4 separate regions of the Homo sapiens genome follow, and regions 1, 2 and 4 are each linked to region 3. Evidence: fine-mapped expression QTL. A gene starts in region 3. Each other region holds a variant in brackets. All regions are shown on one strand. Distances are from middle to middle. Region 1 overlaps FAM168A (family with sequence similarity 168 member A). Region 2 overlaps FAM168A (family with sequence similarity 168 member A). Region 3 holds the start of RELT (RELT TNF receptor). Region 4 overlaps FAM168A (family with sequence similarity 168 member A).

Region 1 (2,684 bases), 210 kb after region 3:
CCAGCTAATTTTTGTATTTTTAGTAGAGACGAGGTTTCACCACGTTGGCCAGGATGGTCTCAAACTCCTGACCTTGTGATCCGCCCACCTCGGCCTCCCAAAGTGCTGGGATTACAGGCATGAGCCACCGCACCCAGCCAACTTATTTGTTTATACCTTGTCTCTATTGCATCTGGAGCTCCTTGAAGACAGCAACTACACCTTACTCATCTCCGTGTATCATCAAAACCAACCTAACATAGAGGCTGATATCCATGTTGACTAAAATAATGCATAGATGCATAAGTGATTATTTTTGCTTGCTACAAAGACTCTAATCAGCAAAATATTTTGGGGAATCCTAATTAAAATTGCCTGCCAGAGGCCGGGCACCGTGACTCATGCCTGTAATCCCAGCACTTTGGGAGGCCAAGGTGGGTGGATCACGAGGTCAGGAGATCGATACCATCCCGGCTAACACAGTGAAACCCCATCTCTACTAAAAATACAAAAAAAATTAGCCAGGCGTGGAGGCACACACCTGTAGTCCCAGCTACTCGGGAGGCTGAGGCAGGAGATTGGCATGAACCCAGGAGGCGGAGCTTGCAGTGAGTCGAGATGGTGCCATTGCACTCCAGCCTGGGGAAAAAAAAAATTGCCTGCCAGAAACTACTAATGGCTTAATAGGGTAATTAAAAACCCACATTTCTTAAAGTCTCAATCTTTCTACCATCAAATAGTTAAGTCAAGTCTTATATTTCAGTTGTAAAAATCAAATACACAAGCATTTGATACAATTTGGTTTTATAGCATTCATTTTATATTATCTACAAATTAAAACTGACCAAAGGTTAATAAAGAGGAAACTTTGAAGCAGAAAAAAGAACTCTAGACTGAGTCAGAAAAGCAATCATAAGGTCCCGTCTTCTCCATTTACCAATGTGATCTGCATTCATTCCAAGTGAGATTCCAGGGATCCGTCATAAATCAAGTTCTTTCTGAGTCTCATTGTGTCTACTGTGTACACAGCTCCACTGACCCAGCTATGGGCAAAGAGTAAAGGAAAGCTACATGAGAGTGGGCTAAAGTAGAGTAGAGACAACACAACGGGCAGGGAGCAAGGGGCAACAACAATGATAGAAGACACTCTATTAAAACTCAGCCCAGGCCAGGTGCAATGGCTCATGCCTATAGTCCCAGCACCTTGGGAGGCCAAGGCAGGCGGATCACGAGGTCAGGAGATCAAGACCATCCTGGCTAAAAGAGTGAAACCCCGTCTTTACTAAAAATACAAAAATTAGTTGGGCATGGTGGTGCATACCTGTAATCCCAGCTACTCGGGAGGCTGAGGCAGGAGAATTACTTGAACCCAGGAGGCAGAGGATGCAGTGAGCCGAGATCACGCCACTGCACTCCAGCCTGGGTGACAGAGCAAGACTCTGTCTCAAAAACAAAAACAAACAAACAAAAAAAACTCAGCCCAGAGCAACATGGAGTAACTGACTCATTGGGAAATTACAGCTGTTAATAGGCCAGTTTGAAATGATGGATTCACCTGACATGTCTTTACTGATGCTTATTCTGTACAAGGTCCCAAGATGGGCTCTGAGAATAAAAGGATGATCAGATACAACTCCTGTCC[A/G]CTGCAAGTGGAAGAGACCAACAAATAATAAATGGATAACCACAATCAGAGTAACCCAGAGATGGGGTACCCAATCCCAACCTAGGAAATCACGGAAAACCTTCTGGAAAAGGTTATCTCCTAGGCTGAGTCTTAAAGGCTAAGTCAGAGTAGACCAATTAAGAGTAACAAAGAGATATCTAGGCCAAGAGAACAGCACGTGCAAAGACAGTGAGAAAAGAGGCACTGCACATCTGAAGAACTGCAGACATAGTACAATGCAAACTTCAGGAGTACTGGAGGTAAAACGCACAAGCCAGGAGGAGAGACAATAAATGACAATGGTGAAGAAGTTGGGGAGAGGATCTTGAACTACCTCAGATACCATATTGGGAAACCTGGACCTCATCTCAAAGGTTTTAAGTCAAGAGTTTAACACTAACTCCTATCTAGGAGACAGTGTCCCTACAATGACACTTGGTTGAAGGGCAGGCTTTCAGGCATGCTCATTTTAAAGGGTGTTGGTTTTTCCCTTCATAATTATACAGCCTGATCAAAATGTAAGTAAACACAGAAATATATTTTTAAAAACACTCCTTTGCTTCTGGGGCAGGGGATTATGGAGAAATACTGTACCTCCTCAATGATGATTGATCTAGTCAGAAAAAATTTAGAAAGGGGTGTTTTTTACATTCACTGACTTTTTTTTTTTTGAGACATTGTCTCACTCTGTCACCCAGGTTGGAGTGCAATGGCATGATCAGTGCTCCCTGCAGCCTCGACCTCCTGGGCCCAAGCGATCCTCCCACCTCAGCCTCCCGAGTAGCTGGGACCACAGGCATGTGCCATCACTCCCAGCTAATTTATTTTTATTTTTTTGTAGAGATGTTGCCCAGGCTGGTCTCAAACTCCTAGTCTCAAGTGATCCTCCTGCCTTGGCTTCCAGAAGTGCTGGGATCACAGGTGTGAGCCACCATGGCTGGCCCACTGACTTTTTTTTTTTTTTTTTTTTTTGAGACGGAGTCTTGCTCCGTCACCCAGGCTGGAGTGCAGTGGCGCAATCTCGGCTCACTGCAAGCATCGC
Region 2 (2,684 bases), 74 kb after region 3:
GTGCGCCACCTAATTTAAAAATTTTTTTTTGGAGAGCCAGGGTCTCTCTATGTTGCCCAGGCTGGTCTCCAACTCCTGGGCTCAAATGATCCTCTTGCCTCAGCCTCCCAAAGTGCTGGGATTACAGGCATGAGGCACCGCACCTGGCCTAAGCTACTGTTAATCAAGTCTTCCAGTAGCATATTCTGGCATTTATAACTGATGCATAGTGAGTGATAAAACAGCGGAGCTGAGATTCAAACACAGACAATTCTTAACTACTAAGCTACATGAAAAAAAAAATCTGGCACTGGATTTACTAGGGAATGGGTACTCAAATGATGAAAATAACTATAATAATATGAATCACTCGGCCTACCTTCTTAAGGCTCCAAGCTCCTCTGGAAACTCAGGATGGTTAGTAACCTAAATTACAACAGAACTACTTAGGATCAGGTCCCCTCTTTGGACACTGTGCCCAGCCCTCTTGTCTGCATTTCAATTCAGAGCTCCCAGCTGGGGATCCACACTAAGGCGGGAAGAGGGTAGGAAGGTTTGGAGTCAGGTCTTGACTCTTTGCCCATCCCCACCTATCTTATGGTACCACGAAGATTTCAGGCCTCCTGCCATGCAGGCATAAGGCAACAGAGTCCAATGAACTCAGCATAAACTTACAAATTGTGACAGCACTTGTGGTAACAGTGAAGGCCAAAGCTTCTCCTTGGTAGACAGAGACCTTTGGAGGTAACAAGAAGTATGGTTTTGTAGCTTAAACAAGACCAAGGACTACTGATTTTTCTGCATCTTCTCCTGCTGACAGCAGTAATAGCAAAAATCTGATTTAGACACTTAAATTCAAGTACCTTCCCCATCAGCTGAGCAATTTTCAAGTAATCACACTTTTGACCTTACTCAACATGAGTCCTTTTAAAGCCAATTTTAGGGGCCAATTATTTAGTTTTCCTAAAATGTGCAAGGGAAAAGAAAATTGTTGGCTATCCTGCTGGAAACTGGCTTGCATCCCTGTGTCCAGGGTTTAGGACCACCCAATCTGTCTTGAGAAGGTGCCAGCAGCCCCTCCTGTCATAGCTGACACATGTGTGACATTTGACACATAACCTGCTTCTAAAGCTGTTTTGAACTTGAAGGAATTATGACATTCATGATGGCAAGATTCCTAGACAAGCTCACAAAATTGGGAGAGAAGAGGAAGACTATGGAACATTTACTAAATGGGAGATAGGTCCATTAGAATCATCCAGA[G/A]AGCTTGTAAAAACACCGATTTTGCTGGGAACCACCTCTAGGGTTTCTGATTCTGTAAGTCTGAAGCTGAAGCCCAAGAATTAGCATTTCTAGTAGGTTTGTAGGCCCAGGGGTTACATTTAGAAAATCACTGCTATAAAGTATAAATCAATTATTAGTCACAGAGACTTTGGAAACTGACAATTGGGCACCTCCAGATGCTGGAAAAGTTTCTCCATCCGTAAGAAAAGGTTCACTGTATCAGGATATTCACCTAGCTTATGGCCTTTTTTCCCTCCCAAAAACAAAACGACCCCCCTTCTCCACTCCCCTCCCCCCAAATCTAAACAGCAATAGTGACAGGTTTCAACTGGTTTCTTTTTATGGACCAGACAGACCCTGAATGCTCAGAACATAGGGAAATGCCTGTGGGTTTTCACAAGGCAAAGCTGTCTCTTAAAAAAGATGCTTTGAGTTCAGAAGAGGAATTCTCCTAGAAGTTCCAGACAATATACCCTGAAAGAAAGGACAAGTCTACAGTGGAGGTTCTCTAATCTCCCAAAGTATGCATATACTACTACTAGCTGCTACTAAGAAAAAAACTCTTAGACCAGCTTTTTCCACAACATACCTGTGCTTATTACCATAGTAAGAACCAGGAATGAATAGGTGCAAGGATGGAGACGAGTGTGTGCATGTGTGATATATATTAGGGGTTGGGAAGACAAACATAAACTAGATAATTCTGAGAACCCCTTCATGGCAGCTTAGGAGCTATCTAAATGGGTTACAGGTTGAGTTGAGATACTGATTCCTTAAGCTCTTAGGCTGTCTGGGAAGAAGGTGAGGCATAAGAGCTCCTGGGCAGCTTTGTCTATCTATCCAGAGTTCCCTATAAATAATGTAATTTTCTGTGTGAAAGCACTGGCTTAGAGCTAAATGTGAATTACTGTTTAGAGAAGACCCTCGGGACAAAAAGCCTATTCCAAACTCTCAGGTCAATTTGCCAGAGAGATTTATGGACCTCTGAAAAGGCTTCGTTATTAGAGGTTTGATCATTCAGTCCTTTATTCACTCAACTAACCAATATTAATTGAGAGTTCACTTTGTGTTAGGCACTTTGTGTTAGCACTGAGAACACAATGACTGCCTGCAATAGCAATGGGTATTACTAAAGATATAAACAATTATAAGACAGTCTACAGTCATATGCTGCATAATGACAGCATATATGAAGGTGATCCCATAAGATTATAATACTGCATTTTTACTGTACCTTTTCTATGTTTAGATACACAAACAACCATTGTGTTACAATTGCCTACATTATTCAGTGCAGTAACATGCTGTACAGATTTGTAGCCTAGGCTATACCACATAGCCAAGGTGTGTAAGTAGGCTGTACCATCTACGTCTGTGTAAGTACACTCCATTATATTTGCACAACAACAAAACTGCCTAAT
Region 3 (2,684 bases):
CCCACATATTTTTGTAGAGACTGGGCTTCATCATGTTGCCCAGGCTGGTCTCGAACTCCTGGGCTAAGTGATCCTCCCAACTCAGCCTCCCAAGGTGCTAGGATTACAGGTGTGACCACTACACCTGGCCTTCCCCATTTGGTTTATTGAGTGACGACACCTGAAATTGCCACCATTTGAACTCTAGAACCTAGAGCTGGGGTGTAGATGGTCCCCTTACAAAGAAAACATTTCCAGGAGTGGAGGCATTCTGGATGCTCTGGCCTTCCGTAGGCTGGGATGTGGGACCCTGGAAGAACCCCTGCCCCAGCCCTGGAGGTCTCCATTGACATATGAGGGTGCTGATGTCATGATCCTGACATCAATGACCTGTAGCTCCTTATGCCCTTCCCCCACAACCTGAGCATGACCCAGGGAAATGAAAACTCATCCCCTGCTCCCCTCCCCATGCGGTGTCCAGTTCGCCTCCTGGAATCTCCTGGACCCTGGGGACCTGACCTTTTCCGTCTCCTAGCCCCTGGGTTCAGATTCTATGACTGTTTAGAACCCCACCCCCAGCCATCTATCCCCAGCTGACTTATTTACCTTCCTTTCTCCATCTCTGTCATGGGCTGTGATTATCCTGACCCCAGCCAGGCCTCTGGCCCAGCACTAGGTCCTCCCTGGTGTCTCAGTCTCCCATCAGCCCTACTGTCCCAGGAGGACCGCCTGAGATCCCCTGAATAGTACTGAGAGGGGGAACGGGCCACTGAGCTGCTCCCTCCAGTCCTGGCACACCCTGTAGCACAACTCCAGGGGACACGATTCGGAGTCGGAATACAGTGTGAATACTGCCTGGAGTTTGTGATGACTGGCATTGGAAACTGGCAGGGTGGGATGGCTGTAGTAGGGAGGGGGGCACTGAGTCACCTGTCCTGCTGGAGGGAAACTAACTACCCTGGCACAGAGAAGTGGTGCGGGGAGTAGGGGAGTGGAGGCAGGAGACGCCTCCTGGAGGATTTCACTAGGCCTTGAAGGATGTGCCGAAGCCCACCGTGTGGGCTTCCTTTATAGACTCACCTTCACCAGGCCTTTTCGCCAACTAGGTGAGGGTTTCCAGGGTTGGGCCTGGGCCTCGTCAACAAAGCAAAGTGAGGTTATTCTTCCTGGCCACCAACTGGCAGGAGGAAGATGAAGCCCAGAAAGGGGCAGAGGTGGCTCTAGTTACACTGGCAATGCTGAGAGGACCCAGAGGAGTATCTCAGTCTCCAGTCTCTTTATCTTGCTTCGCACAACTCCTTGCTTGGTTCAGAGCCTTGAAGAGGCGGATACAAGAGGCCCTCTGGGCACCGCCGCCCAGTCCCGCGCAGCCCCCTGCAGTTCCCAGGGGCGCGAGAGAGGGCGACGTAGAGCAGCACCGCCCAGCGGCAGAGCGGCGAGCCCCTCCGCGGCTCGGGGTGAGTCGGGCGCGGGGCGCAGACCGCGCTCTGACGTCGGGGGCGGAGCGGCCGTGACGCGCGGGGGCGGGTCTGCGCACCTTCCCGGCCCAGCCGGCGATTCATTCAAAAGGCGCGCAGGCTGCGCGGCTGTCCGGGCGCTCGCCGAGCCGGGCCGCGGCGCCGAGTCGAACGGGGAGCCGAGCTGGAGCTGCCGCGGCGCAGCCAGGTAAGGAGGGCGCGCGGAGCGCCCATCCAGAGTCTGCTCTCCGCGGCCGGGCCAGCGGGATACGGACCCTAGTGGCGCCCCCTGCCTCCCCGTGTCTCTGAGGAAGTTCGCGGGCTCGGCGGATGCGGCAGCCCGGCCGCGCGCCCCCCCACCCCACTCCTCCCGCCTCGCGTCCTGTCCCGGCGCCTTCCGCGCACCGGCCACCGCCAGTCTCCGAGCCCCGTGACCTGCAGGTCCTCCGGCCGCGACTCCGGGCCGGCCCTGCGTGGTGGCTGTCGGGGGGCGCGCGGGGAAGCAGCGGAACTTGCGGTGTGAGGGGCCGGCGGGGCCCGGAGCGGTCCCCGGCCCGGGAAACTTGGACCGAGACCAGGTTGTGGTGCGGGCTGGACGGCGGCGCCTCGGCGCGGCTGCGGCGCGGGGCGGCCAAGGGGGGGTCTGGATGGTGTCAGCCCGTGACTGTGGGTGACACGGCGCGTGAGGCGGCCTGGCCGGGCGAACGTGTGGCTGGGACACTGGGCGGTGACGCCGGGCCGAGCGGGCGACACAGAGGGGCTCTGTGTGTGGGAGACAGGCAGCGTGTGTGCGTGTGTTGTGTGAGGGAAAGACCCGGGGTCACTGGGGTCACGAAGTGCGTGGCTTGGGGCGTGACCGGCGCAGGGCCAGGGCCACCCGTTACTGTGAGTGTGAAATAGAGGGAGAGGAGCCCAAGTGACTGAGAACGAGCCGAGCTCGCTGGCGCCATGGTGTGCGTGTGGGGTCAAGTGGTGTCAGTGTGTGTGTGTGTGTGTGTGTGTCTGCGCCTAGGGTGATGATGAGTAAGAGGCAGGAGGAGGAGGGACCGGACCTAGGACACCTTCCGGCAGATGTGGGGCGATGAGGAAGTTGGGGAGCCAGGAGACAAGGGTCTCCAGGACTGTCCCCACGAGGGCACCCCTCAGGAGTTCAGCTTGGTGAGGAGATGGACCCTGAGGGATAGGCCCTGGCTGAGGGAGAAAGCCGAGGCTGGGCAACATCTGGTGGGGTGGCCCAGATGGCAGCAG
Region 4 (2,684 bases), 26 kb after region 3:
CAAGGTACTTACCCTCCTCAGCTTCCCCATCTAAGATGGTGCTAACAACAGGGCTCACCTCACGTGTGCTGTGAGGACCGAATGCCTTAACAAACATGAGCAGCAGGCACCAGCCACACAATAGATGTCAGCTTTATTGCGCGGATGGCTCAATGGATTTCAACTCTGAATGGCCTCACTGTGCTCCCACATCACACACTTAGGGTGGGTGCTGAAGTTGCCACTTAAAGCTCCCCAGCAGCTGTGAGACCCTTAGGGCAGACCCCTGTCAGATCAGCTGTAAGATGTACCATAGGTTTTTCTTGACTACTGAGAACAAATTTAGCATCAACTTGGGGAGACGCCCAAGGGACTCACTGGCCCAGGACAGTCCTCTGTGCCTCCCTCCCCAAGAACCACTCAGTCTAGTCACCTAAGACTTTTTTTTGGGGGGGAATTTTTTTTTTTAATAGTTATTGAGTGTTCTACAGCTTACAGTAAATACCATAGTTACAAATTCTTGGCTTCAATCTTTCAGAGTGATCACTGTCTGATCTTCAAAACAAAACAAAAACCCAAAAGAATCCAAAACAACAAAACAAAACCAGATTTACACTTCATACACACAGGCAAGGCCATGGGGCTTTCCAATCTTTACACTCCGGACTGTGTTTTGAAAACACCTATAAATTCTTTGATCAAACTACTTGGAAGACACTGGTCAAAGGTTTATTATTATTATTATTATTATTATTATTATTTTAAATTTTATTTCTTTTTAAAATGTGAGTTCCAATAAAATTTAAAAATTAGATTCCAACCTGTAGATTAAAATGAATTAAAAAATACAAAATCATATACAACGCTCTCTTCACAGGGATGTTACATGCCATGAGAACAGGTTTCTCTGTCATGTGATATGAAACAGGGAAGCAGATGCCTTTAAGTCAGGATGGGGACAGGCCCTTGGGCCTTTCAAGATTATTACAGACAACTCCAAGTAGCTAGAGGCCTGGCCTTACCCCCCCTGGGTAAGGAGGAGCTTGAGTCACACCATAGATCCAGACTATCTGGCTGACCCGAGGAGAAGGTCTCTGGGACAGTCTCCTCTCTTTCCCTGACTCTCTTAGGCCTGAGGAGAAAGGCTGGGGTCTGGAGATGCTGGTCTTGCTGGGGTCAGGCCCAAAGCTGATCTCACCCATTTGATTCCTATGGGCCGGTACTTTGCAAAGCTGTTACATCTGTTCTCCTTAGGAAGGAAAATCCCCCTGCTATCAGT[G/A]GCTGGAATGGGTAGAGGACCTCTACCACAGCAAGGATATCCAGGGACTATCCATGTGGCCATAGGGAAGCAAGTGCTGTTTTGTCCCTTTCTAGCTTTGTGGCAGCCAGTCCCAACTCCTGTGTGCCTCGGTTGGCCTTTGGGTTGGACTCAACAGCATGCACCACAGAAGATATCCACTGGAGAGACTGAGGGACTGGGACCCAAGTCTGGCTTAGGCAGGGCTGGCCATGGAATGTTGAAGCTGGCCTGCCAGGAATTTTGAAGGCTGGGTCCTGGAACCATATAATGCCTAATTTCAGAAACGAGGAGTTTTCTAGGAAAGGGGCAGATAAGTAAAGGACAAACCCTGCAGCCCCCTTGGCATGCCTGCCTGTGCGCTCAGAGGCTCCGGTGTGGAATCCCATCAGTTAGTCTGGCGTGTTTCTTCAGCTCTGCGGGTGGGTCCCAACTGGCCCACTCTACTACTGCCCCTCTCTGGATTCCCAAGCTTGGCAAGCAGCGGGGGCCGCACAGCCAGTAGTGATGTGGGAGAATACAGGATGGAAAAGCAGACTTCCACGTATTTTCACTTAACTGCAATTGAGGAGGAATTCTGATACAGATGGTGATATATAAGACAAAGTTCACAGGGCCCAGAATGGGGCCCACCCCCTCTGGGCACAGAACAAAGCTGAGGAATTTGATATGGAAGCTCTGAGCCTCGCTTAGTCAGTGCCTCGCTGGGAACCTGGATGAGTCCTATCTGTATGAGGAGCCAAAACTTGGTGACCAAGGGGCCTGTCCTTTTATACTTCATGTGATTCCTTTCTGAAGGCCATCAGAACAAAGCAAGCCCTCCAAAGAAGGACCCCCAGATCTCTGGGAACGGGGTACCTCAAACTTGGAACAATTCGGGTGGCCAGGGGTAAGGATGCTCAGAGTCTGGTTCTGGTCCTCACCCATGGGAAAAGCAAGCCCAGGGACTTCAGTCTGTACGTTTTGTACCAACTCACTGGATCTGGACAGTGGGCAGGCTCTCAGGGATTAGGAAGCCAGGTGTGCAGGCTTACCAAGGACATGGGTCTCCCAATAGAAAGATGCCTCGTGCTGTCCTTGAACATGTCTTCGGTCCTGGGCATTGTGACCCCAAAGTGTTTTGTCCAAGTGAGGCCTTTAGTTGCAAATTCTCATCCTCCTTGTGCTGCCAGTTAGATGTGCCTCTGGGTCCCTCCCCAGGGCTCATTACAGGTCCTGGCCCAAAGCAGTTCATACAAATCTGCTCAGCTCAGAGACTGGGCTTCCCAGCTCTATAAAGTACAGTTAGCCCCTCCCTCCATGCTTGCCAAGAGACCCAGCAGGTGGCAGCAGAAAGAGCAGAGGATTTGAAGAATCACTTCCAAGCTGTGTGACCTTTTAGCAAGTCTCAAGCCTCCTGAGCCTTAGT

What was found. PIP is the estimated chance that this variant, and not a neighbour inherited with it, causes the effect.
Region 1: its variant is the best candidate, but not a certain one, in a credible set for the expression of RELT in whole blood (INTERVAL, PIP 0.74).
Region 2: its variant is the best candidate, but not a certain one, in a credible set for the expression of RELT in whole blood (TOPMed, PIP 0.52).
Region 4: its variant is the best candidate, but not a certain one, in a credible set for the expression of RELT in whole blood (TOPMed, PIP 0.68).

What each region holds. Positions count from the first base shown.
Region 1 is chr11:73,581,878-73,584,561 of GRCh38, forward strand. The region is part of intron 1 of FAM168A (family with sequence similarity 168 member A); the gene reads right to left. Among named protein-coding and RNA genes, the nearest start is that of FAM168A, 15 kb to the right of the region's middle. The variant A/G (reference allele first, on the strand shown) is at 1,622.
Region 2 is chr11:73,449,121-73,451,804 of GRCh38, forward strand. The region is part of intron 2 of FAM168A (family with sequence similarity 168 member A); the gene reads right to left. Among named protein-coding and RNA genes, the nearest start is that of RELT, 74 kb to the left of the region's middle. The variant G/A (reference allele first, on the strand shown) is at 1,243.
Region 3 is chr11:73,374,856-73,377,539 of GRCh38, forward strand. It overlaps RELT (RELT TNF receptor), which reads left to right and starts at 1,544. Exons shown (of 11, transcript NM_152222.2): 1 at 1,544-1,644. RefSeq lists silencers at 1,264-1,573, 1,604-1,893, 1,984-2,063 and an enhancer at 2,229-2,523.
Region 4 is chr11:73,400,373-73,403,056 of GRCh38, forward strand. It overlaps FAM168A (family with sequence similarity 168 member A), which reads right to left. Exons shown (of 8, transcript NM_015159.3): 8 at 115-2,684. Among named protein-coding and RNA genes, the nearest start is that of RELT, 25 kb to the left of the region's middle. The variant G/A (reference allele first, on the strand shown) is at 1,259.